3 separate regions of the Homo sapiens genome follow, and all the other regions are linked to region 3. Evidence: fine-mapped expression QTL. A gene starts in region 3. Each other region holds a variant in brackets. All regions are shown on one strand. Distances are between the middles of the regions. Region 1 overlaps TANC1 (tetratricopeptide repeat, ankyrin repeat and coiled-coil containing 1). Region 2 overlaps TANC1 (tetratricopeptide repeat, ankyrin repeat and coiled-coil containing 1). Region 3 holds the start of TANC1 (tetratricopeptide repeat, ankyrin repeat and coiled-coil containing 1).

The links.
Region 1: its variant is fine-mapped to the expression of TANC1 in lung (TOPMed, PIP above 0.99).
Region 2: its variant is fine-mapped to the expression of TANC1 in tibial artery (GTEx, PIP above 0.99). The same link has a PIP of 0.9 or more in testis.

Annotation. Positions count from the first base shown.
Region 1 is chr2:159,096,532-159,100,769 of GRCh38, forward strand. TANC1 (tetratricopeptide repeat, ankyrin repeat and coiled-coil containing 1) reads left to right here. Exons shown (of 27, transcript NM_033394.3): 4 at 1,106-1,303. Among named protein-coding and RNA genes, the nearest start is that of MIR6888, 88 kb to the right of the region's middle. The variant C/T (reference allele first, on the strand shown) is at 2,552.
Region 2 is chr2:159,055,024-159,059,261 of GRCh38, forward strand. All of the region lies in intron 2 of TANC1 (tetratricopeptide repeat, ankyrin repeat and coiled-coil containing 1), which reads left to right. It also overlaps the pseudogene GSTM3P2. Among named protein-coding and RNA genes, the nearest start is that of TANC1, 89 kb to the left of the region's middle. The variant G/A (reference allele first, on the strand shown) is at 2,407.
Region 3 is chr2:158,966,433-158,970,670 of GRCh38, forward strand. It overlaps TANC1 (tetratricopeptide repeat, ankyrin repeat and coiled-coil containing 1), which reads left to right and starts at 2,208. Exons shown (of 27, transcript NM_033394.3): 1 at 2,208-2,350. RefSeq lists silencers at 1,994-2,103, 2,164-2,243.

The sequences.
Region 1 (4,238 bases), 130 kb after region 3:
GCGAGAGCACACCTGGACAGGGGAGGGGCAGGAGTTCTTATTCCTGACGCAGGTAGCCCCTGCTGCTGTGTTGTTCCCCTATTGGCTAGGGTTGGACCACACAGTCTAAGCTAGTTCTGACTGACTGTTTTAAAGAGGGCAGGGGCATGAGCCAGAATGGCGGGGTTTGGTGGGAAGGACGGTGAGGAACAGGTAACTAAAGGTGACTTAGGTCAGAGCAGGTGACCGGGATGAGTCAGGACAGAGCAGGTAACCAGGGAACAGACGTGAACTACTAATTAGGATTGGCGGGAAAGTTGTTGACTGAAACTAGAAGCGAGAAGCCAAAGAGAACCAGGAAGTTAAACTTTAAAATGGAGAATCAAAGAATAAGAGCTGAACATACTGACATACTGGTTTTTTTGAGGAGAAACTTGGGGTTTACCATATTTAACAATGTTTAATTTCCTAATAGTAAGCTTGTTTGTTCCCAAGCTTGTTTAGGGGTGGAGTGTCAAGCGGAAGCTGCCTAATAAGTGAGCAATGTTTCCAGTCCCATGACTGGTTTGGGGCTGTTTGAGTTTTAGGAGGGTGGCCCTGTGTCATGGGGAGTGTTGAGTAGATGGGATGGGAGCCAAGGGATGGTGCTGGGGAGGAATGTGGATGTAGACTACACTCTCACTTAGTCTTTTCTTATTAGAGAGGAGCAGTGGAGGCCTGGGAGTTCTGGAAGGGTTGGTATCTGAATCTGTTTTACTGATACTCATGTAAGGCTAGTAAGCCCTCTCCTTTTCCTTTTCTGAGATCAAAGCTTCTTGTGGATCATTCATACTTGACCTTGATCTAATCCCAGATCAGTGGCTTCCTGGATCCTTTGTTAGGGATTGAAACCAGATCAGTTAGGGTAGTGCAGAAAGGCACATGGAGCAGAGTTCACTGATGCTTGAGTTTTCCCTCACAGGGTAAAAAGTTTCAAGAGTAGTGGGGGAAAAGTCATTTAAAAAAATTCAATACACACATCTGATATGTGGGAATTATATTCTGAGAATATAGTTTATAGGAGTTAAATTTGCATCAACTTATAATGAATGGATGGTTTAACCTAAGTATTCTCTCTCTACTCTAGGAAGTGACTTTGGTCCAGAGACTTCTCCAGTCCTGCACCTTGACCACAGTGCTGACTCTCCTGTGAGCAGTCTTCCCACAGCAGAGGACACCTATAGGGTGAGCTTGGCCAAAGGTGTCTCGATGTCTCTGCCTTCCTCACCTTTGCTGCCTCGACAGTCTCACTTGGTGCAATCAAGAGTGAACAAAAAATCCCCAGGTAAACAGGCAATGAAGGAGCTGCCTTGGTTATATATGTAGTACCTGCATTGAAAATAAGCAAAACTAGTGCCCATGAGAAATCTTCTGGGACAATGTTTTTTCTTTGTCGCAGTATCTTCTAGAAGAAATAAATCTTTTTTTTTTTTTAATTTAAGGAAAAAGTATGGTTTTAATAGATTCATCCTGTTTGGACTACCAGGCTAGATTTTTATAAAGATTAAAGATTTTGTTATCAGTACTGATGTTAACCAGCAATTTTGTTGTTTTCTTGCTGATGAATTAAGGAGCACTATACAGTTATGGCACCGACTAATGATGTTTCTTTTGATCAATGACAAACTGCATGTATGATGGTGGTCCCATGAGGTTATAATACTGTGTTTTTACTGTACCTTTTCTATGTTTAGATATGCAGATACTTGCCACTACATTAATAGTTGCCTACTGCATTCAGTATAGTAACGTGCTGTACAGGTTTGTAGCCTAGGAGCAATAGGCTATGCCATATAGCCTAGGTATATAGTAGGCTATGCCACCTTGATTTGTGAAGTACACTTGAGGATGTTCGCACAATGACAAAATCACCTAATGACGCCTGTCTCAGAATGTATCCTCATCATTAAGTGACACATGACTGTAATCCAAACTCATACGTGGTGTGTTTAAAGGTTATGGATGTAGGCAAATGTCATCTGACAATAGTCTATTTATTACTACCTAGTATATACTGATGTATTTCATTTGATTACATCATCTAGCATTTGAACAGCTATAAAGTTTGTTTGTGAAAACTCAGACTTGTAAAGGGGGGTGGGGGAAACAGACTTTGGATTATTCCTATTATACTTTGGAAGTATTTTGGCTTCCCTCTATCAATGTGTTTTACACTTAACATTACCCAAAAAAAACAAAACAGAACTTTGAGAGGTTATGATTCACATGTGAGGAAAGCCTTTCTAAAATGCTGATACCTTGAGTTTTAAAAATTCTTGGATTTTTTTTTTTTAAGGTTTGTGGAGTGTTTACAAAAGGCGGATAATTTGGGGCCCAGTTGATCATATGCCAGTGTAAGGATTCTTCTCAATTACATGTAAACATATTCAGAATCTATCAAAAATGTGCCTAGGGCTGTGAAATGGTATCTGTTTCTCTGATTTCCTGGTAATATTTGTATTACTTGAGATCACCTATGCTGACTCATTTAGTAGATCTTTGAGGTTTATGTGCGGGTAAAATTAGGAGGGCA[C/T]CCTTAAAGGCTCTGAATGTTAGAAACGGTGCTATGAATTTGTGAGTGTCCAAAATCTTTTATTGTTGCAGAATTTTCTGGTTTAGGACAACATTGTTTACAATCCATTAATTAGCTGGAACTCAGGAACCTTTTTGGTATGAAGTAATTTCCTGTGCCAAGGAATTTGACCTGTTTATCAGTATTTGGGGAAGTTCCTGGAATGTCCGTCCTTCCTTCTTTGCCCTCCCTCACTGCTGTATCTCTTTGTCACATTTCTTCTCTTCCTTCAAATCATAGTTCCCACACTGCCTGTCATACTGGGTTATCCTGATTGGAATTACTCTTCCCAAAAAGTATGCACAGTGTTTTACTTTTTCTTTATTATCAGGTACGTCATTTGTCCTTTTCCCCTGAATTAGTGGGTATATTGACCAAAAAAAAAAACAAAACAAAACAAAACAAAAAAACTTTGCTTGGCTACACTGTAGTCATGCTCCTGAACTTTCTCCTAGGTCTGTGTGTGTGTGTGCGCACACATTTTCTTGTAAAATCCAGGTTTAGCTAAGAAGCATGCTACTAAGTTTAGCAAGAACGCCTCCCCACCCCCACCCAAATCTGATTAGATTCCTCATCCTCCACCATCTTCCAGGTGACATCTGGTCACCCTGACCTGTCTTTAACAAGAATTGCCTTCCTACCCCTGATGTTGCCTCTTAGTAATTTTTCATGCACCGATACCTACCCTGTTCCTTGGCTATAAATTCCCACTTCCCCATGCGGTATTTGGAGTTGAGCTCAATCAACTCTTTCCCTAACTGCAAAATCCTACTGCATTGGTCCCTATATGTGTTAAGATGGTCCTGAATAAAGTCTGCCCTACTATGCTTTTAAAAGTATCACTGAGTAGTTTTTTCTTCTTAAAAACATTATGTGCTTCCTCTGTCTGATGCTTGAGGACAAACAAGATGTCTTATACCTCATCTCTATATAATAGATAATAGAGATAATTCAGAAACTATCGATATTTTTAAGGGATCTCTGTTGAAGGTAATGCCAAGTGCAGAGATTTGACCTTTTGTACAATTTGCCTACCTATAGTCTGTGCTACTGCAAATGAATTAATGTTGCTTGGGCCTTAGGACTGGGGAAAACCTGAGAGACTTCAGGGAAGACTGCATGTCAGATATAATTTTATTCACAAATTCAGTGTTTTAGTGGGACTTTAGGTGGGATTGAATGGCATGGCAAGCCTGGAGAGTGTGGCTACCCAGAAAGGTTTCATGGAGGTTACAGGCATGGAGGCAGAAGAATCCCTGATGAAGCCATGTCTCCTTATATGTGTGTGGACCACATTAGTTTTTGTCTTTTTTCAAGAAAATATCCTCAAGTTTTTCTCCATAGGAATGAAATTTATTTTTGCTAAATTCTTTGCAAGGCCTTAGAATAGAAGGTTAATAGTTCTGAAACATACAAGCTTCTGGTGGATTTGGGATGTTCTCTCTATTAGATGTTTTTGGTCCAAATGATAATTAAATAAACTAAGCAGATACATCTCTAACGGAGCAGTGCTTGTTCACTGCCCAAATTTGTACAGCAAATTAGTGTCTCACAGTGGTAATTTGGCTTCATTATCTTGGTAATTTTAATTGGAAAAGTTTAGGGCAGAGATGCTGTTTAAAAATGGCAGTGACTCAATACATCAAAT
Region 2 (4,238 bases), 89 kb after region 3:
TCAGGAAGGTGGGCAGTGTAAGTTGGGGATTGTAGCTCTGTTGTATGACACAAGTGGGAAACAACAGGAAGGAGAAAGGAAAAGAGAATGTAATTCTGAGTGTGGTTGTTGTGGAGCTAACTGTCATAAGGAGGATTGGGACTTGGGTTTCCGGTTGCCCTAAACCTTACACAAAGAAAGACTCTATGGCCCTAGCCACGCCTTCTACTGAGTTATGTGAGAGGAGGAGACCACGATCAGACTGTGGTTCATACTCAAACCCTAGGTGGTTCTCCAGGAGCTTTTTAGCTGCATGGCTACTGGGTCCCTGAGGTGATGCTGGTATCCATAACTGCTACACTTTCATCCTCATGCAAAGCCTCCCTTTCTTTGAGGCGTGTATTCTGTGCTGTCCTGATCACCTCCCTATTCCCCCTACCCTCAGTTCATTGAGGACTTTGGAGGCAGCTATTCAGTGCCTGAGCTTTCAAGTCAGGCCTGGGTTCACATCACAGATTTGCCTTTACTAATCCTGTGGGCTTTATCATTGTCTGGAATTGTTCCACATCCAAATTTTAAAAATTCTTTAAAAAGAACCAGACTCTTTCAACTTCCTCATTCATTTATTCCGACTGTGTTTGTTCTTTGATCTCTTTGAGACACCATACTTTTTCTCTCTGGCTATCCTACCTCTCAGGGCTTCATTCCCTTCCTGACCAGCCTTGATTTCACAGCACACCACTCTGAGCACTCCTGTACTGGCCCCTGCACTGTGAACTCCTGATCATTGATCAGATCCTGCATTCTCTGGACCATCCCTGGATGGTTCTTGGGGCTGAGAGTCAGAGAAGGGAATTGCACAGCATAGCTTATTTATTTATTTATTTATTTATTTTAGCCCAAGTGCTGTTTATTTAAAAGAACAAAAAAGAGTGGAGGCCCCCTAGGGACGGATGAAACAAAACTAGCAGTGCAAGTCTGCCTCTAGCTCAGCATAAAAGCTTGTTGCCCCACTGGGCCATCTTGTTGTTGATAGGCATCTTCAAGAAGCAGTCAGACTGCATGTAGGCAGCAATTTTCTCCAAAGCCTCAACGGCACATGAAAGCCTTAAGATGTGGGAACTCATCCAGGCACTTGGGCTCAAACATGCACTTTTGATCCAGGACGTCATAGATGGGAAAATCCACAAAGGTGAGCTTTCCCCTGCAAACCATGAGAATTTCTCCCAGGAACATGGAGAATTGTTTCAGTTGTTCAGGTAGCTGTTCCAAGTACTGAGGTTTCAGGGTTGGTTTTTATTTATTTTATTTATTTATTTTTTTTTTTGAGATGGAGTCTTGCTCTGTCGCCCAGGCTGGAGTGCAATGGTGCGATCTCGGCTCACTGCAACCTCCGCCTCCCGGGTTCAAGCTATTCTCCTGCCTCAGCCTCCTGAGTAGCTGAGACTACAGGCGCCCGCCACCACGCCCAGCTAACTTTTTGTATTTTCAGTAGAGACGGGGTTTCGCCGTATTAGCCAGGATGGTCTTGATCCCCTGAACTTGTGATCCACGAGAAAAGAGAAGCCTCCCAAAGTGCTGGGATTAGAGGCGTGAGCCACTGCGCCTGGCCAGGTTTCAGTTTTTCATGGTCAGAGTTGTAACAGCACTGTATCAGTTGTGTGCAGAAACTGGTTGCTTGGTTCTCTAAAATGTCCACTTGAATCTTTTCAGTCTTACCACACATGTGCTTGCCAGCAGTGTAGCACAAGATGGCATTGCTCTGGGTGACCTTGTTCTTCCCGTCCATGAAGTTGGGCAGATTAGGAAAGTCCAGGTCTAGCTTGAATATCACATCCAGCCATTGGCTTCAATCATAGGAGTTTCCTGGCATGTGTACCATTTCTCCTCATAGGACATATCCGTGAACTACAGGAGCAGGCAAATGGTGTGTGCCAGCCCGCAAATATTCCACTAACCCAGAACCATAGATGAGTTGCACGATATGATGATGCTACTTGTGAGCCTTTGAGGATAGGAGCAGTTTCATAATCGGGTGTTATGGCCTGGTCTGCAGCCTAGTTTGGATGATCAGAGCTGTTCAGCTGTCCGTTTTATTGTTTTTGGTTTTTCTGAGAATCTCCTTCTGTTGCCCAGGCTGGTCTCAAAGGCCTGGGCTCAAACGATCCTCCCAAAGTGCTGGGATTACAGGCGTGAGCCACCATGCCCAGCCAGCTGTCCTTTTAATCTCTTACTTGCCTTCCTCTCATCTACAGGGCTATCCTGAACCTTCACTGCACCTCTTACCTTGTTTTTACCTTGTAGACAAAATGGAGGCATGAATGTTTTTAGCTTCCTGCTCATGTTTGTCCACATGTTGTCTTCCTCCTCTGTCAGTTGTACTTGCCTTTGTGTCCCTTGTTGTTTGGCACAGGGTAGCAACGTACA[G/A]ATGTATGTCGAATGAAAACCTGCAATTGCTAACCCAACACTCATTCCTTAATTGGAAAATTAGGTTGTAACCCAATTTCTGCCACTTGCTGGTCCAGGAGAGCCAGGGCAAGTTTCTCCATTGCTCATAGCCTGTAGAAGGATATTAATTTTACTTAAAGTTATTAAAGGATAACAGTCTGTTTTTAGGTACAATAATTCCCTTTGAAAATTATAGATTAAAATTATGTTTCTCCACAACCATTCATTGATGTTGAAATTGGAAAACAAATACTTTGCTGGGGTGGGGAGCAAGGCAGGGTCTGACCATTCAGAGGCCCAAAGCCTGGTGAAGGAAGCAGGTGTATAAACAATTAAAATAAGATGAAGAAGGCTTCGAAGATGAGGTGATTCTGTGGTGTGTTTTGAAGTGGGTGGGCTTATGAAATTCTTTTGCTTTCTCTAATATATCTAAACATCTATGTAAATACCTGGATGATATACAGTACTAGTGACAATATTGGAGTTTTGTCTTCTAGTTAGCCGTGTTTTGCTGCTGTGGTAGGGAGGTAAGTCTCAGCTAGGGAGCACTCAGGTGACAGGGAAATGAAGACAGGGAACTCCTGCCTGTAAGTGAGCAGGAGCTCTCTGCAAGACTGAGCTCTGCCTTGCACAGTAGCCATTGGCCTGGGAGACATCATGATTATTGCTGGAAATGCTGCCCTTTCTGAACCCTTCCTTTTTTTGAAGGAGAGTGTATTGATTTCAGATTTTTGGCTACTGTCTTTGCACTTATCCCTTCTGTGTGCCTATTTGAAATACCCAAATAAAACCTACCTGCAGCCAGTGCTTCTGAAAGCCTGTTATTTGAACAGATCTTACTGTGTTAAATGTGCACTTCTTCATGTATACACCAAATTATTTTGACCATAAAGTTGGGAATTAGTACTTGGTACCAGAATTCTTAAATTATTAGTCCAAACTCCTTGTTGGAAGAGAATTGCCGTTGATTTTGATTTCCCTTCCATAATAACCCTGCCACTCATTTAAAGACTTTTTTTTTAGTGTTTGTTGTGTGTAAGGTACATTGCTAGATGCCATGGGGGATTTGTGGAGTTCAACATTTTTCACCATAATTTTGATCTATCATCATATTAGAACAAGGCAGGATGTAGAATTAGAGAAAACATATCTTTTGACCATTGTGGCCTGAGAAGGCTTTATGGAAGAAATGGTGTTAGAATTTGGATTGAACAAATCCCTTTACAGGTATATGAAGATGGCTCTTGTACTTAGAAGGAAGCAACTTCTTTATCGTCTCCTCCAAAAGTGAAATTTTCTTTCTGCCAAGTACTTATCAAAATACTAATTTTCTAGTAACTTGAAATACTGGCTAAGGTAAGGTGTTTTGTTTGTTTGTTTGTTTGTTTGTTTTGGTAGAAACTCTTCCTGAAACAACCTGTATGAATGTACAGAATATTTTAAATATAGGTGGAAGGTGATTTCACCACAATAGTTTCCACTTAATTTTGGTGCATCAGAACTTAAGCATTTGATTTCCAATTTCATGCCCAGAACTCTTTTAAATTCATATTACTTGTGACTGTAAATTTACTATGCTTTTTAATAACTTATACTTAAATCTGAAGTGTTTTTGCTTAGGACAAAACTATAAAGAATAGAATAGTAGAATAGAGTTCAGCTTGTAGAATGGGTTGTTGAATAAAGAATGAATGACTGGATCTATGTGTCTTAGAGAATAAATTATAGTTTAATGTCATATTTTCCAGCTATGCAAATTAAGAAAAACCAGACTAGGTGCTGTACTTCATGCCTATAATCCCTGTGCTTTG
Region 3 (4,238 bases):
GCTTCTTTGATGTTCTTAGTACAACATAGTGTATGTAATGTCAGCTGTTTAAAGCTGGAGATCAGATTGTGCATAATAACATATGTAGTTTGGATTATATAAACACTACAGGAAGAAGGGGAGACAGGGCCTTTCTGTGTGCACATTTCAGATTGCTAGCTGTATGCCTGTTTAGAATGTTAAATACTCCTAACTAGGCAGTGATGAAGTTACTTCTTTAGTGACTGTGACTTCTGAAACTATAAAGACAAAACTTTTTCAACTAAAAATAATTTAAAGATGATGTCAGTAATGAACATATTTATGTGATTTTCTACTTGCTACTTAAGGAGCTTTGAGAGTAGAGGGAAAAAAATTGCACTGCCTTCAAAGCCCTATTTAACTAAGCAATTTCATCAAAAATTTGGAAATACAGCTGAGAAGAGCCAAAACCAGAAAAATGTGGTACAAATGATAAATTTCATCCATTATACCTTTCTCCCATTATAAAGAAGTCTGGAGCAGGAAATCTTACCAGTCTATTTTCTTAGGATTGTTTCTCTTATATTTTAATATTTCAGATTAGTTAGACTGCTTGGAGTTTTTGTCTTTTGTTTGCATCATTCTTTTATCATTAAGGTTGCTGTCTGGCTTTTTTGTCTGTTGAAAGATTTCGTTTCAAGATAAATTAAATAAAACATTACCATATTTTTCAGCAATGAAACATTTCAGATGGAGAAAGAAGTCAATAGTTTTCTGGTTTAAGTTTGTATTTTTATTTTCAATATTCTATCCTGCCTTGTTTCGGGAATACTTCAAGGCCGCTGATGTGTTTACTGCTCAAATATCAACACAGCAGTAATCAGGCCTTTGAAACTATGGGTGAAAAATCCAGTCCATTTCAGTCTTTTTAATTTATGAAAAGAGATTGTGTGGCATTTTGCTTCCTGTCCCTTTTCATAAGAACTTTAAATATGGACACCCCTCCTGCTGGTGTCTTTATATAGGGAAGCTCTGCGTGAGGTTGAAGTTTTTATGAGGAAACTTGTTTAAAACACAATCGTATTTTAAGGCGGGTTTGCCACAGCAAGGTTAGGGGTTACCAATAAATCGGTTTACAGCAACTTCTCTATTCTCTGCTCCAGACACACCAATGGGGTGACCCGTGCACAATTCCCGCTGGCCACACAAGGCAGCGGCAGTTCTAGTTGATCCTTCCTTCGTCAACTAGATCAACGAAGGCTGTCTTAGAGAGCTTCGGGTATTAAGTGAGCAGAGTCCCTTAGGCCAATTTGGCTGCCTGGGATTCCTGGGAGGATCTTGGAGAACCCAGGACACCCGAATCCCTAGTCCCTATCCTGGTTTTTGCTCTGCTGGAGAATAACAAAACATTTTGGGAACTCAGGAGTTTAATTTACTGCCACCAACCGACAAAATAATAGCATCTTTGTGTGTTCTCTCCCCTCCGTCCCTCCCACCTCCTTCCGACAGAAGCACGACGCTGGCCCTCTGTGAATGTAGCGCAGACAGCACGGGCCAGCCCGGAGCGGTCGCAGGAGGCTCCAGACCCGCGGCCCCAGGGACGCCCGGGAAATCACCGGCCCCAGAACGTCCCCCATTCCTTTTGGGAAATAAAAAGACGCAGCCGGTGAGATGCCTTCTTAGACCTTCCAGCTCATTTAGCTGATTCTGGCCCCAGAAAGTGTGTTTGTGTTTGTGTGTAGTTAAGTGAGGCAGAGAAAATCCAAGAAAGCCGCACAAGCCACCCCAAAGCGTCCACGGAAACTCCAGCTCGGTTAATTGCTCCCATATGTCCTCCTCGGCTGTGGTAAAAAAGCAGCGAGGAGGGAAGGCCGGGTCGCTTTATTGATTTTGAAGAGGCTGTAAAAAAGACTATGGCCCATCTCATTTTGGTCCCAGAGGGGCCTAGGCGCAGCCCCGGGGGACCCGGTGCCCAGAGGGATGGTAGGGTGCTTCAGGCCCGGACCTGGCGCCGAGAGGCGGGACAAGGGGACCTCGCGCCCAAGCCCCGCGGAAAGTTCGCGCTCCGCGCTCCAGCCGGTCCCTGGATCCGCCGCAGCCCGGGGCGGGGAGGGGCGCGGGAGGCGCGGCCGGGGCGGGCGCGCGAGAGGAAGGTGCCTTCGGGAACACGCGCAAGGGCGGGGATTCGCGCTGCCAATGAGGCCCCGGTGTGGGCCGAGCAAGGCGGGGGGACGGGCCGGAGCGGAGGCTTTGCTGTGGCAGCTGCTGGAGCGGCGGCCGCCTCGGGAGCCGGAGGAGAGGCAGCCGCGGAGCGCCGAGCTGGCCTCGCCCCGAGGCCCGGCCCTGGGTGTGGGGAACCGCGCTGAGGAGCTGGAAACTTTCCCGGCAGGTAACTCCCGCAGCCCGGACTCCGCCGCGGGCCTGCGAGCGCCCCGGGCATGGCCAGCTGCCAGTGTGCGGAGAGGTCGAGAGGGACCCGGGGTGGAGAGGGTGATGGGAGAAGGGAAAGGCGTGTGGGAAAGTTTCTGGAGCGCCCCCTCCTCCGCCGGGCACACCCGGGAGCTTTCCGGGAATAGGCACAGACATGTTGGGCGCCCCGGGCCTTGGTCTCTCGGCGGCTTTGGGGAGTCCGCACCTTCCTTGCGCGGTTCCCCCGCGCCGGACCGAGCCGGCCTCCCCTGGAACCGGTGTGGTGGGAACCGGGAACGCTTGGGGCACGCTCGAGTTCTGGGACCACCCCCGCCCGGCGCGCCCGCTCGCCCCCTTTCCCGCCTTCTCTGTAGCCCTCGGGCTTGGCAAGGGCCTGGGCTACGCCTGGTACCTGGCGCGGGGGAGGCGGGGGGAGGCGCGCCTGGCACCGCGGGGTCCTGGGCGCCCCCCGGAGTGTTGGGGTGCGCGGGTCGCGAAGTTGCCGAGAGAACTTAAGCCGGAGGCATGGTATTGCCCCAGTCTGGGCTGAAAGTCTATTGCTTTGCTTCCAAGAACACTGCGATTAGCATATCCACACTCCTTTATTGGGGGTGGGGGTGAGTTAGGATTAGACGTTGGGGGTTTTTCTTTAGGGGTGGGGCGCTGAGAAGAGCGGTAATTGTCAAGATTGTGAGCCCCCTTGTTCTTGGATGCAGAGTGGTCATTTTCGGGGGACGATATCAGGGCACTGGCTTCCTGGAGGACTTTGGGGTGCGGGCGCGCAGCGCTGTGGGTGTGCGGGGCTCCCGGCTTTGGCGCGGCGGCTTTCCGGAACGCCTGGCTGGGAAGGAAGCTCTAGGCATTGTGTGGTGTGTTTGCAGACAGAAAGGTCCCTGGACCGGTGTTCTCAAAACTTACTGGACTTATTGTGTAAAGCTCCGGGAGGAAATGTGGCGTTGGCCAGGTAGAAACGCGGCGCTGCGGCCAAGGGGCGGAGGACGCCAGGCTCGGCAACGGCCTTCTCCCAGCCCCCTCCTGCCAGCTCCAGATCCGCGTGCCTCCAGTGTTGGGACCGTTCTCAGTGGCGTTGTTCCCTGCTGGAGTTAACTTGGGAGGTGAGGAGGGAACTTTCATCTTGAACTTGACCCCAGAAGCAGCGTCGTCCGTACAGGTTACAAGGTAAATGGAAGCTGAGTCTTAACGTGGGTTGGACCGCAAACTCTGGCTGGCGCGGAAAGGAAGTTCCTGGTTCAGAATCTTTGAGGAAAGGGCTCAAGATTGCTGAGATCGCTCGCTCTGGAAATGCCAGACACACCAGACTGCAGAAGTTAATGCGTGTTTGGAGGGGTGGGGGTGGGAGAGGAAAGGAGAAACCTGGTTAGTTGGCACAGAGGGCTGGTATTTCTCTGTAGTGGAAATGAAGGGAGTCTGCGTCTCTGCTTTCACCAGATCCGCTACCCTCTTTTTTCCTTCCTTGGTCATCTTTATTCCTGCCAGGCTGGCACTCCTGAGGCAGGGGAGGGGAAGGAGAGGAAAGCAGTTGTGAAGCTTCCTGGGTCAGCCTGGAGGTATTTCAGATCTGCTACTAGGAAGATTCCAGGATTTTAACAGCTGCTTCTTGATTGCTGGGAATGAAGGAGTTTATGAGCGGCTGAGACTACTTCATTATAGAAGTAGTCTGAGTGTTTTACTCATCTAAGCTACTTAAAGACCTCACAAGGGACCTTCCCTAGAGTATGCCAGTTTCTGCAGTTTGTGTCAGCCAGAATGCTTGGTGAGTGTTAGTCAAAAAGCATCATAAATATATCCTGGTGGTTCTGAAATGAAAAGTATGTGGCAGTAAAGGAAGTATGGTATCTGATATCCTT